2 separate regions of the Homo sapiens genome follow, and region 1 is linked to region 2. The links come from fine-mapping of genetic effects on gene expression. Tissue or cell type: subcutaneous fat. Region 2 holds a variant in brackets; the other region holds the start of a gene. All regions are shown on one strand. Distances are from middle to middle.

What was found. PIP is the estimated chance that this variant, and not a neighbour inherited with it, causes the effect.
Region 1: it holds the start of TTC21A, and the variant in region 2 is fine-mapped to the expression of TTC21A in subcutaneous fat (GTEx, PIP 0.97).

Annotation. Positions count from the first base shown.
Region 1 is chr3:39,102,764-39,110,850 of GRCh38, reverse strand. TTC21A (tetratricopeptide repeat domain 21A) reads right to left here and starts at 3,171. Exons shown (of 29, transcript NM_001366900.1): 1 at 2,987-3,171; 2 at 1,637-1,766; 3 at 712-822. The coding sequence starts at 3,013. It overlaps GORASP1 (golgi reassembly stacking protein 1), which reads left to right and starts at 3,224. Exons shown (of 9, transcript NM_031899.4): 1 at 3,224-3,372; 2 at 7,298-7,378; 3 at 7,970-8,087. The coding sequence starts at 3,310. RefSeq lists a silencer at 3,275-3,594 and enhancers at 7,642-7,691, 7,370-7,869.
Region 2 is chr3:39,214,327-39,222,430 of GRCh38, reverse strand. It overlaps DSTNP4 (DSTN pseudogene 4), which reads right to left. Exons shown (of 2, transcript XM_047449432.1): 2 at 7,759-8,104. The coding sequence ends at 7,759. Among named protein-coding and RNA genes, the nearest start is that of DSTNP4, 5.6 kb to the right of the region's middle. RefSeq lists a silencer at 1,357-1,456. The variant G/A (reference allele first, on the strand shown) is at 3,800.

The sequences.
Region 1 (8,087 bases), 110 kb after region 2:
CTGTAAATCCAAGAGCGAAGGAAGAGGGAGAGTTAGGATGTGGAAGTCTGCCTGGTTCTGCATGGGCCACCGAGGGCCCAGGGAACTACCTCGGGGTCTCCCCCAGACACTGTGGATCTCCTTCAACATATGCAGCACACCGCATGCAGCCCAAGGCCTGGAAACCAGCAGTACCTGCCCTTGAGATGCTGCAGGGGCTGCCCTGGTGTGGACTCACGTGTGCTGTCTGAGATTACCTTCTCTTCTCTGTGCCCAGCAGTGTGCTGAGCAGGCAGGCCAAACCAAAATCCTTAGCCTCAGGCCCACAACTTATTGTGAGTAGGGAAATAGTAGTCTGTAGTCTCTCTTGGACCCTCTCCCTGACTCTAGAAATGTGGAGATTAGGGGTAGAATTATATATATTGGCTTGGTTTTTCTGACAAGATCTTGGCAAAGAAGAAGGGTGTTTCCCCAACTCTTGGGATCTGGAGCATGGGCCCCTCCCACTGTCATGGGCTCTGCCTGCTTCCACTCAGTTGGGCCCAGGCATGGAGTCTTCTCCCAGGCCTCCAGGGGGAGAGGAGCAGCAGCCACTTCTCACTGGTTAACAGCATCTGCACAGCCACCAGGGCACATACCTCCTTTGGCAGCCCTTGAGGGGCTGTGTTATCTCTGGGGCAGGGCTTTCCTTCCCCTGGTGGGTCAGGCCTGGTTGAGCATGGTGGCACTCACCAATGATTTCACATCTTTTGTGAGCATAAATGAGGGCCATGGTGGAGCACAGGGACACGTCTGGGTGATGCCTGATGCTTTCCAGGTCACTGATGGCATCCTGGATGTGCTCTGCAAAGACAGTCCACATAGTTATACTCTCAAGCTCCAGGACTAGAGGACATGAGACTCTGTAGCTGACCCAACAGCTCAGCACTACTACCTGCTGGACTAACTGGTCTGAAAGGTCCCCAGTGACCCAAGTTCCCTGAAGATTGGGGCTCTTTGAAAGAGTTGCTGGTAACATGGTCCAGGCTGTTAGGGGCTGGAAATCTTGGACTTGAAAGGTTCACCCTGTGAGTACTTGTGGGGATATGTGTGAGGCTGCAATTATTAGCTGCGTCAGTTCTGAAGAAGGACCTCAGGCAGGGCATTCTCAGCTACTGCTCAAGAGCCACTGATTACATTTATCCCTCCATGTCCTCAGACATTTGGCCATGGGCTATTCTGCCAGTCCTCAGCCTAGGACCACCTTCTGAATGTCAGCCCATCTGCACCTGCATGGGTCTCACTCCTCTCCCTGTACCTGTACCATACCCACCTGTCCTCACACCTACCTCTTCCCCCTCCTTTGCCTGCATTACCAGTTCTCAGCTTCCAGGCCTGGAATTACTTCAAGAATCATGCAGCTATCTCTCCAACCACTCATTTTACAGAGAGGGAACCCGAGGTGCAGAGCAGGGATAGTCAGCGCTCTGAGGTCTCAAAAGTCAACTAGATATGGATTACGTAGGCCTCTGTGGATTCCCGTGGGAATCCAGCCGCTGAGTGTGAAACTGTTTTTATGGGACCATAACTAGGATACAAGAAGGCATCCAGGTGGAGCCAGAGTGTTAGGGCCCAGCTAGTGCCTGGGGTCACAAGACCAACACTGCCAAGTCCTTACCTTCTTTGAGGACTCCATAGGCTTTAAAGAACTTCAACACAGGGTCATTGCTGAATTTTTCCAGGCCCACAGCTGCAGCCTGCTGCACATGGTGGAAGTACTTTTCCTGGCTATAGTAAATGATCCCAGCCTGTATGAAGGAAGACATAACTGCAATAGCCCAGTCCCTTCTCTGTCTCTGTTCTGTCCCAGATGGGATGAGACCTGCTCCCTTCCCTATCCCCTGCTCCTCCTCAGTTCTGCAAAGGGAAGAGAAAGAGGAAACATTCAGGCCTCATCCTGTCCTCTAACAGCCCTGGGAGCAGCTCCATGCAGTTTTCCCAGGAAAGAGTTTGGAGGTGTTTGTTTGGGGGATTACCAACAGATTCTGGTTCAACTATGATGGGGAATTCAACCAAGGCTTTGTCTTAGGAAGGGAATAAGGGGGGAAAAATGAGGACAAATAATAAGAAAAATTATACGAATTGTAGTTACAAGTTATTGTGGGCTTCATATCCACTATCCTGTGCATGGTCCTCTCAGTATCTTTCACAGCTAAGGAAGCTTAAGCCCATGGAAACTACAGCTTGACAAAGGGGCTGAGATTTTAAAGTTAAGTTTCACTTCCTCTAAGGTTTGTGGGTGCTAGGTTGGGAGCAGATGTGGTTGGACTGTAAACATCCTCATGGGCCATATGAAAGAGCCCAGACACCATCCTAAGGGTAACAGAAAGCAGAATGGTTTTAAGGCGAGGGATGTTTTCAGATGTACATTTTTGCAACAACCACTCTGGCTGCTTTTGCATGTGGGGGGTGTGTGCCGTGGTGGCAGCAGGGACTACTGATGCTGAAAAGAGCCACAGCAGAGAAACCAGATGGGAGGGAGGCTGTTGCAGGCTCTCAGGGGGGAGAGATGGTGCTGGTTCTGGGCTAGAAGATAAAAAGATAAAAAGAAAACCCAGGAGACATCAAGGAGCTGGCATTTCTTGTAGACAGGATTAGAAGATGAGTATAGGGAAGAGGTATGAGTTAAGGCTAGGAGATTAAATGGTGAAGCCATCAACTGGGGTGGGAGGCGCAGGCGAGAGTGAGCTGGGTGGAAGAAGGGATGATGACAAGAAGGGATAATGATAGTGATTGGATGAGCTGGTTTGGGGTAGCTCAAGAAACGGGGATGCTAATTTGGGGCTCAGGGTGCGCAGAAGCCACCGGAGAAGACGCCCTTGCCAGGGGGAGTGGGGCAAGAAAAGGCAGGACCGCCTGATATAACTGAGGACAGCGAAGGGTGGCAGGAGAGTAGCAGGGCAGACGGTCTCTGGGTCAGGGGCGGGGAGTCACGAGGGAGCCCTCGGACAGCGCCCGGGCCACGCACCATAAGGGAGGAGTCATTGCTGCTCATCTCGGGCCGCTCGCGGCTCCGAGTCCGGGTCTGGTGGGGCGGTGCAGAGCGGGATTCCCGAGGCAGGGTCGTGGGCACTCTATCGCGGCGGGCGGTTGAAGGCGTTACAGTCCTTGGAAACCGAGCTGCTAGCCGGTTGCTAGGAGCGTCCAGTGTCTGGAGTGGGAGGAACAAAACGCCTCACGTCACAAGGCGCAGGAATCGAGCGCCGAGAGAGCGAGTCGGTGCTACTGGCGTCGGGTCGGTCCGGGTAGGCGCAGCGGGACTGGACCTGGGTGCCGAGCGGAGCCGCTGCCATGGGCCTGGGCGTCAGCGCTGAGCAGCCCGCAGGCGGCGCCGAGGGCTTCCACCTCCACGGGGTGAGTTGCCGCCGCGGCGCCGGTGACCTTGGCGAGGCGCCCGCAACCCCGCGCCCGGGCGTCCGGTCGCCGGCTGGCTGGCGACTGCGGCGGGGTCCCGGCCCGAGTGTTTCCGCCTGGGTGGCGGGAGGTGCCCCCTGCCCGGTGGGAGCCTCCTGGGAGAGGCGGCCTCGCGGGACTCCCGGACCCTGGCTAGTCCGCGGCCGCGGTCGGGCCCAGCGCCCGCCCCAAGTGCCAGCAGTGCCGGAAGCGGAGCGTTTTCCTGGTCCGGCCGCCGGGAATGGCGCTCCTCCCGGGTGAAGAATGCACCACTACCAGTCGGGACGCACTCGTGCACTTAGCACACATTTACGCTCGCCTGCCGCGGGCCGCTCTCCGTGCTGGGCCTGGGAAGAGAGTCAGCCACGCCGAGGACAGTCCCGGGGGCCGGGGTTAACCGAGTGGACGCAGCTGCGGGGGAGCCCGTCGGCGCGCGTCCTGCCAGTCGTAGGGTCGTAAGGGCTTCCGAGGGTAGAGGACCGGTGCAAACCAGCCACGGGATAGTGGGGAGCGGGAGGGCCGGGAGAGTGCTGCAGAATCCTCGAGGAGAGCGTTTGCAGCTGGGGAGGGTCCCAGCCTTTAGATGCCGCTACATGGAGGTCTGGGCGAGCAGGCTTCCGGAGAGTGGAGACGGAGTGGGGTTCCTAGAACGGAGTGTGCTGTGAGGGTGAGGAGAGGGTCCCGCAGCCGGATGGAGATTTGTGCCTGCGGTGAGGGAAGGGCTATAATGTAGGTGAGAGGGGCTGGGGGTCTCTGACCCCGGAGCGCTGCGGGGAAGAGGCGTCCCTGCACCCCCCCTTTCCCTAGTGAAAGGCAGCTGGATGCAGAGATGAGTGGAGACAGGCAAGCTTGTCGGTTTGTGTGTTTTGAAGGTAGGGTCTGTTGCCAGCTAACCACATGAGAGGGCTAAAAGTTTCTTAACGTGAAAACCAGGCTGGCTTGGAGAACCCAGAGTTGACAGGATTTGTGCTTGGGAATGGGCTTTCTTATGGTGAGACACCAAACAGCAAGCGTGGACAGTGGAATGCATCCAGCCAGGAGCGTCTTCCAACAGGTTTGATTAAAGGCAAAGGAACTCAGGATATTGGCAAGAGGAGGGGTGGGGCGATGATGGGAGCTTCGAAGACGGGAGGGGCCTGCCTGATGGAGAGGGACAAATTGGAGAGGGACCAGGGATCAGAGGTTGTCAGTCACAAAAACAAAGTTTTGAGCTCCTACTCTGGCAGGCAGAATTCTAAGGCTCTAGAGATAAAGCAGTGAACAGAACAAACATGGTCCCTGTTCTGGAGCTGACATTTGGATGATGGTAGGGAAAGAAGGGAAATGAAAAAATACATGGTAGGTGGTAATTACCAGTGATAAAAATAAAGCAGGTTAAGGGGATACAGAATGGTGAGTGGGTGCTATTTTTGATAGAGTGGTCAGGAAGGGCCTCTTCTCAAGTCACATTCGAACAGATGCTTCTGAAGGAAGTAAAGAGTGGACAATACAGATATTTAGGGGAATAGTAGTATTCCAGGCAGAAGGACCAGCTTGTGCAGAGGCCCCGAGGTAGGTTGTGCTTGTGTGTTTGAGGAAATGCCAGGTGAGGCTGGTGTGCTTGGATGGTGTGGCCAGTGTGAGGAGGAGACCAGAGCAGACCGTGTAGGACCTTGCCTGTTGTCCTGAAGATTTAAGATTTTATTCTGAGATGTAAAACCATCAGGAGGTTTTAAATGGAGGAGTGACATGACCTACTTACCTTTAACAACACTGAAGAACAGCTGTGCTGCATTCTAGAAATATTGGCACCTCGCTGCGTGCCCAATACTTTGGAGAAGTCGCTGCCCTCAGCGAGCTTAGAGTAGTGGCAGATTCACCAGGAAACAGCTGTTAGGAGAGGGCAGTGGTTAGGGGGAGGGCTCTGGGTTGGATTTCCTGGGGTCAAATTACTGAATTATTGAGTACTTGGTCTCATTTGTCATTTGAGGTTATTAAAAAGGTTAAATGACACATAAAGCAGGTGAGGTGGTGCCATGCCCTGGCACTCAGCCAACCAGCCCTTAGTAAGTGTAAGTTGTGATCACTGTGAGTTCCATTAGGTTCCCTGATTGGGAAAAATAGGGTGGGAGCATGAGGAAAAGCAGCACTATAGGGCCTTGGGGCAGGCTGTGATGGGAGCCCCTGAGGGAGCTGGATGGCAGGCAGTGGTTTCTGCAGGGGGAGCCGTACAGTGGGCAGCAGCATAGATTATTTCAGCTGCGGAGCCATAGTGAGTAGTGATGAGGCCCCAGGTGAGAGAAGTGGAGTGTAGCCAAGCAGAGGACAAAGCCACAGGAGAGGGTGGTGGAGGTATTGGGTGGGTCAAGGAGGCCAGGCCTGGGGCCTGACCCTCTGGACCTCATTCATGATGGAGAGCAGCTGACATGCAATACTGGGGAGTGGGGAGGGAAGTAGGCAGGCACCTGACGTGGAGTGATTTGGAGGTGGCCCTGATTAGGGAGGGGCATTGTCCCCAAGCTATTCCTGAATAACTGTCCTGTCCTGTGGTTTTCGAAAGATCCCCTCACCTGAAGGGTTAGAGGGCAGGGCCCAGAGCTCCCCTGCAGCGGGGCCTGGGAGCAGCTTGCCTACTGGGCCAGGCCAACTAGGCCCAGATCTGATTTCTGGGCCGCACTCACTCCCTTTGGAAGCCATGGCAGCTTCTGGAGGTGATAAGGAGGGGCTCAGTTGGTGATGCTGCCAGAAGGGAATCCTAATTCCAGGGGCAAACTGGCCTTGATCTCAGCGGTTTGTTCTCAGCCTAGTCTTCATGAGCTCTCCTTCAGGTTGGGGAATCCAAACCTGGAGGGGCTGGTATGTAGCAGGAGCCACAGGGCCTTTCCCATGAGGAGGCAGCAAGAGCCTAGGTCCTGTGCCCTCTGGGCTGGGTCTGGCTGGTGTCTACGCCAACAGGTTATCAAATGCCCGCAGCCAAAGACCTGAGGGTGTGGGCCCATCTTCGGGTCTAGGGCCTTGGGACAAAGCCTGCATTGTTTAAGCCAGGCTCTGTATATGGGGCTTTTGGGATGGATTTCTGCCACAGCCTGCAAAGCCTGGTTGTTGTGCTTTTGGAGACAGCAGTGAGGTGGGGAGTTCAGGGAGGGGCAGGGAGCACCCTGGAAATGGGAATGCTTCCTGGAGGAGGTGTCCTGCACAGGCATGGAGGCTACACTATGAGGCTGGTAGGGCAGCTGAGCCACTGGGGGGCTCCTCAGTCCAGAGCCAGGCTGTGGGGATTGGCACTGCCCACTCACTGGGCTCCCTGGCTCAGGCCTAGTTCTACCCCTGGGGTCTGCTTCTCTGCCAGTGGCTTTCATTACCTGCTGGACTGAGCCTGGGTCTCCCACCCCAGAGGCTGGGGTGCAAGCTGGGACCTGGCTGCAAGCTGCTTTTCCCACTCCCTCTTTCTGGGTACAGCCCTGGGTGTATCCCTCCCGAGGCCTGCCCACTTCCACTGCACGTCAGGGCCCTCCCTTCTGGTCCAGTCTAAACCTTTCTGGTAAACCCTTTTGGCTTTCCGGCCAACCCTAGCCTAGCCCTCTAGAGCAGCATTCCCACAGGCCTGGGCCAGCCTGTCTCCATATTGCCTCCTGGGAGCCCCTAAGGATGTCCTGGGCTGTGAGCCATTTCTGAAAGCATCTGTGGATCATAATCAGGAAGGAGCCATTTTCCTAAGAGGAAAATTTGTGCCCAGGAAGGTAGCAAGAGGCCATGGAGTGAACCCTGAGAATGTCCGGAACAGTTCATGCCAGACATGTGTTCTGGCTGGCACACTGGGAGTGCTGATGGTTCCTGAAATGGGGGAGAGGGCTACTTGGAGAGTCCCAGGGTTGGCGCAGTGACTGTGGTCTTTGCTGTGGGATAGGTGCAGGAGAACTCCCCAGCCCAGCAGGCGGGCCTGGAGCCCTACTTTGACTTCATCATCACCATTGGGCACTCGAGGCTGGTGAGTTCCCCAACCTGCCTCTGCTTTGCTTGCTTATGTGTGTTTGTGTGTCTTCATCTGTCCCACAGGGGGCCCCAGTCTACCCTTCCCTCCCTTTTTTTCTAAAGGGAGTCCCAGCCCTGTCTCCCCTTCTTCCAGGGCTGTACTCAGAGCCTGACTGGGGCCCTGCCCAGTGCTCAGCTTCTGAGCTCTGTGGGGTGGACAGAGGACATATGGCCTCTTGGAGGTGGCAACAAGGCCCAAGGGGCCTGCCTCCTGGGGCATGAGGGATATGAGGGCCCTGGCCAAGGGGCAGCTCAGAGTGGGGCAGCACTGGAATGCTGTGGATCTGGGAGGCTTTTTGCTTGCTTTGTTTTTTCTGGCAGGCTGAGGAAGGTTTGGCAGTGCTTGGGGAAGGTGGGGGTCCCAGTGGCTGCAGGCTCAACCCTGGTCTGTGAACCTGGCCCATCCACTACCTTGGCCCATCCCCACAGTGACCCTGCTGAGGGCTGCTGCCCACTAAGGCCCTTGCCCCATCTCAGGCCCAGACTTGTCTGAGGGTCCTAGCCTGGGCATGAGGTGGCCTTGGAGTCAGCCCCATTGCCCCCACAGAACAAGGAGAATGACACCCTGAAGGCACTACTGAAAGCCAATGTGGAGAAGCCCGTGAAGCTGGAGGTGTTCAATATGAAGACCATGAGGGTGCGCGAGGTGGAGGTGGTGCCCAGCA
Region 2 (8,104 bases):
TTCTATCAGTTGTCTTTTTGCTTTCTTGGTAGTGTCCTTTGAAAGACAAAAGTTTTTAATTTTTATGAACTCCAATTTTTTTTCTTTTGTTGTTTGTGCTTTTGGTGTCATATCTAAGAATCCATTGCCAAATTCAAGGTCATGAGAACTTATACCAATATTTTAAGAGTTTATAATTCTGGCTCTTACATTTTGGTTTTTGATGCACTTTGGTTTAATCTTTATACACAATGTAAGGGTCCAATTTCATCCTTTTGTATGGGGCTGTACAGTTATCCCAACACCATTTGTTGAAAAGACTCATTTTTCCCCATTGAATAGTCTTGACATCCTTGTCAAAGTTCACCTAACCATAGATAAATGGGGTTATTTCTGAACTCTGAATTCTGTTTTATTAATCTATGTGTCTATCCTTAAGTAAGTACTATGTTGTCTTGATTATTGTTTTGCAATTAGGAAGAATTAGTCCTAATTTTTTCTTCTTTTTTATGATTGTTTTTGGCTCTTCTGGGTTCCTTGAGTTTCCATATAATTTTCAGGATCAGCTTGTCAATTTCTATTAAAAAGTCATCTGGGATACTGATAGGAACTGTATTGAATCTATAGATCAGTTTGGGGAATATTGCTGTTTTAATGCTTAATATTTATTAAGTATTTGAGACAATATTTATTTTCTTCTGATTATGAACATGGGATGTCTTCCCATTTATTTAGTTTTCTTTAATTTCTTTCAATACTGTTTTGTAGTTTTTAGAGTATAAGTTTTGCACTTCTTTTGTTAACCTTATTCCTAAGTGTTTTATTCTAGTTGATGCTACTATAAATATTGTTTCCTTAATTTCATTTCTGGATTGTTCATTGCAAAGTTATAGAAATTGATTGTTACATACTGTCTGCATATCCTATAACCTTGCTAAACTCATTAATTAATTCTGACAGTTTCTCAGTGGATTTAGTGGATACACATCATCATATAATCTGTGAATAGAGGTAGTTTTACTTCTTCCTTTCCAATCTGAATGCCTTTTATTTCATTTTCATTTTCTTGCCTAATCTGTATGTTAGCTAACAGCTGCCTTGTTGAGCACACACCAAATCAGGGTGAGATGCAGCAGGAATCCAGGTGAGAACAAATTGTGCCTTTGACCAGGGCAGTAGCAGAAAAAGGGTCACAAAATGGTTCAGCTGTTTCTCTTTTGTTCTTCTCTCCTTTATTTCTTTTGACTATCTTGATGGTTTTGTTGTTGTTGTTGTTGTTTTTGTTTTGTTTTGTTTTGTTTTTAACCTCAACCAACAACAAAGCCAACATTTACTTTCTTAAAATCCTCCTGTGGTAAAATTCTTAGTAAGCAGTTCCACATGAAGGAAGCAGACACCAGACTGGAGGCTAAAAAAGCACAAACCCCACACGTCCTGTCTATGTAAGAACAGATCTAACAAGGCAGGTCTGGTTGGAGGGAAGGTCTATTTTTATGAGACGGGGGAAAACAGAAGTGTCCATCACCAGGGCTGAGAAATGCTGCAACTCTCAGCAACCAGCTAAAGATAACCCAGGCCAGGAACTCTCCACCCAGACTGAAGGGGCCTCAGTGCTCTGTGCATGCAGGATAATTCAAGCTTCTCCAGTGAGCAGCCATCCCAAGCTACTGGATCCTTCAGTTTGGGAACACTAGCTTAACCAGCCTTCCTCAGGAACTTCCTTCTCCCTGAAGGTGGCAACACAGGAAAACTCCCCATCAGTCCCTCTTACCCATACACCGCAAGCCAGTTGTGATCTCTCCCTCCTGGCAAGCAGGATCCTGGAGTTCTAATCTGGGCTGGGCCTAGGGTGAGTCAAGGGAAGCCCCTAGGGCACTTGCATGATCCTGACGGTGAGGGCTTCCTTACATTTTGCTTCTTAGATGTTTCTCTCGCCTCACTGGATGGCCAGCCCTGGTTCTAATCCCAGATCTGCTGTTGACAGGCCATGTACATGAGGACAAGTCTCTTGTTCTCTCTGGCCTTCAGTTTACTCATCCGAGAAACTGAAGTGCTGGAGTTAGATCAGTGTTTCCCAATAACTGATCCATGAACCCAAAATGATCCTTAATATTCAGATACACAGAACCTTTACCAAATGTCCTCACTTCTGAAAATCTAAAAACTTTTCTATAAGAACCTAATGTATGACTATAGAATGTGGCAGATGTAGTCAGGGTCCTCCACAGGACTCATTCCTCCCTAGAGAAACTGCACCATCTTCTCTACAGCTCTGTCAGGGCTGTCCCAGCCACTATTGTAACATTGCTAACTGCCCTGACAAAAAGTGATTAGACTAGAGGTAGAACCCAAGCCCAAGATGAACCAATCTATAGACTGGACAGAGACATGCAGATTATTGCTCTCACAGTTTGGGCACTGCAGACTCCGTAGCCAATAATGGTGGGCAGGTCAGCAGTCAGGTCAGACTCAAGGCTGATGGGCACAGAGACCCACGTGCAGGCAAAGAAGCTGATTAAAAGAAGGAGGATGCAGAGAGATGCAGTGATGAGTAAGTCTTATGGTCTATGAAAGTTGAGAAATTACTTTGCTCTTGAGAGAGGGAGGGTGTCCCCAGCTCCTGACTTTCCCATCCTACGCCAATATGAGGCAGGAAGGCCCAGAAGCAATAAGCAACCAAGTACCTAGATTATAGTCTCCAAATATCATTCTCAACTCTAGCACTTCTTGTAGAAATAAGTAATTCTGAGGCCAAGGCAGGGAAATTACAAGATGAACCTGAAACATTTTCTTGTGCCAGAAAGTAAAGAATTACTCAAAGAATGATGGGGGCATGTCTATAGCTCATAGGTACAAATTTCAATGGTTATCCTCTAGCCAAATCTGGAATAATTTGATATTAAAATAAATACTGATGGTAATGGATTAAATCTGCTGAATAAAATAGGAATCCATGAGTCTATGTCAATAAAAATAAGTAGAGGATTGAGTATGAGTAATTTTTTTAAAAAGTAAAAAAGTAAGTGGAGGAAAAGGGAAATGTCTTCCTTATAGTAGCATAGCAGCTAATATATATCGTAGGAATGATGATAATGGATAAACCACCATTTACAACCGCCATAATGGTGGTTAATTCAGGCAAAAGTAATCAATAACTACTAAGTCAAGTTAGTGGAGATTTAATGGGATACAAGATATTGGCATAGTTTGAGAATATCTTCCCACAAAATGTTCATCAATTACAAATAGAAAATTGATGAGTTAATGTGGAGAAACCTGACACAAAATGACCAGGTGCTAAAGATGAACATCACCAGTGTAGGGACAAGCCCACGTTGTATGCCCCCTCGTGTGATGCAGTGAGAAGAGGACAGCCTCCCTTCCGTATAGCACTCCCAGAACACATGTGTGAACCCAGTCCTGAGGAAACACTGCTGGAACCAGGCTGAGCTTTGGCACTCCAAGAACACATGTGTGAACCCAGTCCTGACAAAATATGGGTAGAACCAGGCTGAGCTTCGGCACTCCCAGAACACAAATGTGAATCCAGTCCTGAGGAAACATTGGTGGAACCAGGCTGAGCTTCGTCCTAGAGACTGAAAGGTCTGCACTCTTTCAAACTAATGAGATCATGAAAAACAGGGAGAGACCAAGGAATTATTCCAGATTGAAAGAGACTAAAGAGACTTGTGTATGAAGTACAAAGTGTGATCCTGGCCTAGACAGGAAAGAGACACTGTTAGGACAGCTGGCAAAATATGAATATATTCTTTGGATTAGATGTTAGTGTTAGAGCTGATTTCTTATTTCCTGACTGGAA[G/A]AGTTGTATGCTGGTTATGTAGAAGAGTGTCCTTGGTTTGGAAAGATGCATGCTGAAGATTTTGGGAATTTGGTGCATCATGTTGCAAATGTATTTTTTAATAAATTTATTTATATGTATTTTATATATTTTTATCTTACATAATATATAACTATATCATATGCATATTACTTATGAATATATCATTAGTATCACCAGACAGAGCATCTATAATTTTGTCTTTCAGGTCTACCGTTGATTTTTTTCATTTTAACAAATATTTCTAATTTCCTAGAATTCTTTCTTGCAAGTTTTTCCATAGCAATCTATTTTTGTTTTCCAAACAGAAGATATTCTTGATACTCCATTCAATTTTGGACATTGCCAGTTGAACATTCCACAGTACTGCAATATCAGCCTGCTCAAAGCTGAATTCTCCATCTTTTCCTACAAGCCTGTGGATCCTATAGTCTTGTGGGCCACTGAAAGCAATAGCTTTCTTTCTAAGTTGGGTAGGAAGCCATTGAAGGGTTTTGAACAGAGAAGTGACATAATAAAATTTGCATTTTAAAAGAATCACCCTAGCTGTATTGAAAATAGACTGTAAGGAGGCAACGGAAGAAGAGAAGATTCCAGTTGGAAGTAGGATAATCAATAATCCTGGTTTGCCCAGGGCTGAGGGATTTCCTGAGACTGGACTTTCAGTGCAAAAACTGGGAAAGTACCAGGCAAACTGTGACAAGCTGGCTACTCTGGTTAGGAGACTATTTCAGAAGGTTCTGGTGTGAAACGATGATAGCTTGGACCAGCTAAATGGAGATGATTATGAGATGTCAGATTCTGGATATATAATGGGTAAGTTTTATATAATACATAATGCATGGGATGTGTCAAGTGAGGAAAAGAGAAGATTCCTGTGTTCTCAGATTGAGTACTAGGAGACCTGAATTAGCATTTACTGAGGGATGAGGGGGACTGTGGAAGAAGCTATTTTGGAGGTAAGGGGTAGGTCAAGAGCTCAATTTGGGACTTTCTAAGCATAAGATGCCTATGATCCAAAAGGGGATGTTACAAGGCAGTGAAATACATGAGCCTTGAGATCAGAGGAAAGAAGTTAGGATTATAGATATTATATATACATGGACTTTAAAAAGAAATTCATGAAGTGTAGATAAAGAAGAGAATAGATCAAGAACTGAGTCCTGGAGATCCCAATATTAGGAGGGTGGACAGTGGAGGGAGAACCACCAATAGAGAGTGAGAAGGAGCTGCCAGTGAGATCAGAGGCAAACCAGGAGAGTGCAGGGGTCCTGGAAGCCAAGTAAAGATGGTGCTTCAAGGTAGGTGGCATGATTCCCTGCATCCAGTGGAATCTGGGGCCTGCAAATTGACCTTTGGGTCTAGTTATAAGGAGGTCATTGTTGAACTTGACAAGATTTGTTTGGGTAGAGTGGTGGGGGCAAAATCTTGATTAAAGGAGAATGGGGGTGGGCACTGTGGCTCAAGACTAATCTCAGCACTTTGGGAGGCCAAGGTGGGCAGATCACTTGAGGTCAGGAGTTCAAGACCAGTCTGGCCAACATGGTGAAACTCTGTCTCTACTAAAAATACAAAAATTAACTGAGCATGGTGACGTGTGCCTGTAGTCCCAGCTACTTGGAAGGCTGAGGCAGGAGAATCGCTTGAACCCAGGGGGCAGAGATTGCAGTGAGCCAAGTTTGCGCCACTGCACTGCAGCCTGGGTGACAGAGTGAGACTCCGTCTCAAAAAGAGAGACAGAGAGAGAGACAATGGGAGACGAAAGGCAGTAGCTGGAGGGGAAGGTGGAAATGCTTTTTGTGGTTTTTTAAGATGTGAAAAATAACAGCATGTTTGCAGATGGGAATAATACAGTAGAGAGGGGAGAAATGATGATTCAGGAGAGAAGGCAGAGAATGGTGAAGCCATGTTCTTAAGAAGCGGAGAGAGGTTAGGATCTAGGGCTTCAGGGAAAGAGCCAGCCTGAGCTAAGAGTAGAGACAATTACTGCACACAAATAGGAAGGAAGACAAGGCATGTGGGTACTGGGTCAGGAGACTGAGTGGATCTGGCAATGGGAGCTCATGAAAATTCTCTTCTGGCACTTCTAATTCTCAAGAAAGTAAGGAGCAAGGTAATCAGCTGAGGTGGCATGGGGAGACTGCACTGGAGGTCTGAAAGAGGTAAGCTATAAAGGCATCGCCTAGGGGAGCAGATGGAATGGGGAAAGAAGGACAGCTGCTGAGCAGCACTCTGAGCTACTTGAGGTTTCAGTGGTCATGGATTTAGAGAGAGAGACCAGTCAGCACTTTACAACTTTCAGTTCCCTTAATGCTATCTGTTTTTTTTTTTTTTCCTGTTTGTTCATCTTAGTCCTTCTCAATTTTACTGTTGGTTTTGCAGAAATGTCTGGTGGTCCATGGTGGCCCATTTATATTTGAAGAAAAAGGGCTGGGTTAATTCACATAGGTGACTGAAGACACTCAAAGCTCCCCTCCCCAATTACTAAATAGGCTGAATGGAAAAAAGACCTACAACCAGACACGTCATGGTCAAGTTTCAGAACACCAAAAATGAAGAGGCAATCTTAAAGTCTTCAGGCACACACACAAAAATGATAACAGCAGTAAAAGCTGTCACACACACACACAAAAAGGTGTCAGAATGCCATCAGCAATCCTGGGGGCTGGAAAATAAAAAGCAAGCCTTTAAAGTTCTAGAATTCTAGACCTAGCTCAATCACCAATACAGCAAAATGGTAGAATAAACATACCTTTCATCGTATTTAGGATGTGTTCCAACAAAATAAGGAAATCAAAGAAAGACAAGGGCAGGAAAGAGTGAATCCATCTCAGAAGAGCAATGAAGGGAAAGCCCAGGATGAAGGTTTACCTTTCATTACTCTTAATTGCACGCCTTTTCTCAGGTTCAAATGTCTTTACCTTGTGCATTTATCACTTCCACAACTGTTTCTTTTGAAACAGAGTCTTGCTCTGTCACCCAGTCTGGATTGCAGTGGCGCAATCTCTGCTCACGCAACCTCCCTCCCGCATTCAAGTGATTCTCATCCCTCAGCCACCTGAGTAGCTGGGATTACAGGCACGCACCACCATGCCCAACCAATTTTTGTATTTTTAGTAGAGGCGGGGTTTCACCATGTTGGCCAGGCTGGTCTCGAACTCCTGACCTCAAGTGATCCACCCACCTCAGCCTCCCAAAGTGTTGGGATTACAGGCGTGAGCCACTGTGCCCAGCCTAACAACTATTTTTGTTTAAATAACTCTTTACCTCTCAGATCATCAAAATTCTGGACACTGTAACTTCTCCCCCCATATGACTCGAAGTGTTGGAAAAATATGTATGTTTAATTCCTTACTAATTTTTCACATCAAACCTCTTTCTTTTTCATATTATCAGAAATATTTAGATTTAACTATTTATAACTGGGTTTCATTGTTATCAATAGTTACATAAATGCCTCTTCACAGAAAATGCTTCTTTATTATAGAAGCTCTCTTCGTTTTATTTTTAATTTATTTTACTTGAATTTAGTTTTCTTTTGGCTGAATCCTTTCAGCCATATCACCCTTTTCAGAAAAAGTTCCTGGGCAATATACTTTCCAAAATGTCTTTCTGTGACTTGTACACATTGATAATACACGAATGGGCATAATTTCTAGGGTTACACATTTTCTCCCCAAACTCTAAGACAATGCTCATGTGGCTTCTATTATTTAATTAAAAGAGGGTATGTATCCTTGGCTGTTTAGTGGAATCCTGTTTAGCAAATGCACACACCAGGAACTAAACATGACTCCCAGTACTGAATTCCATGAGCTACACATTCTATCTGAGCACTACTCTTGTTTTCTCTTTTTTAAAAACATATGTTTGCTTTATTTATATAGCAAGCGGATAACATTAAACATGGAAGCTTTCCATTTGTGGCACTGAATGATGGCCTACACAGAGCATCCTTCAAAAGCTGCAATTAAGTACCCATCTAACTTTTCAGCAATACAAGCCCAGTTGAGATCTTCTGGTCCATTTGCTTGAAATTTCTTTTTGATTGCATCCTTACAGCTTGTGAAGATCATTTTACTTTTCAGAGGTGGTAGTTCTGGTGCCCACAAAAACAAACAAACAAACAATACTCTTCCGGATTTCTTCGTTTCAAAGCTTGCATCATATAAAGCATAGCAGCAATCTTTTTCAGGAAGCATTCCCACAAAGTGCTTGAAAGGACCAGTTATGGTTACACCAATATCTCCAGCTGAGATCTCTTTGCCCTCTTCTACAATGATGCAC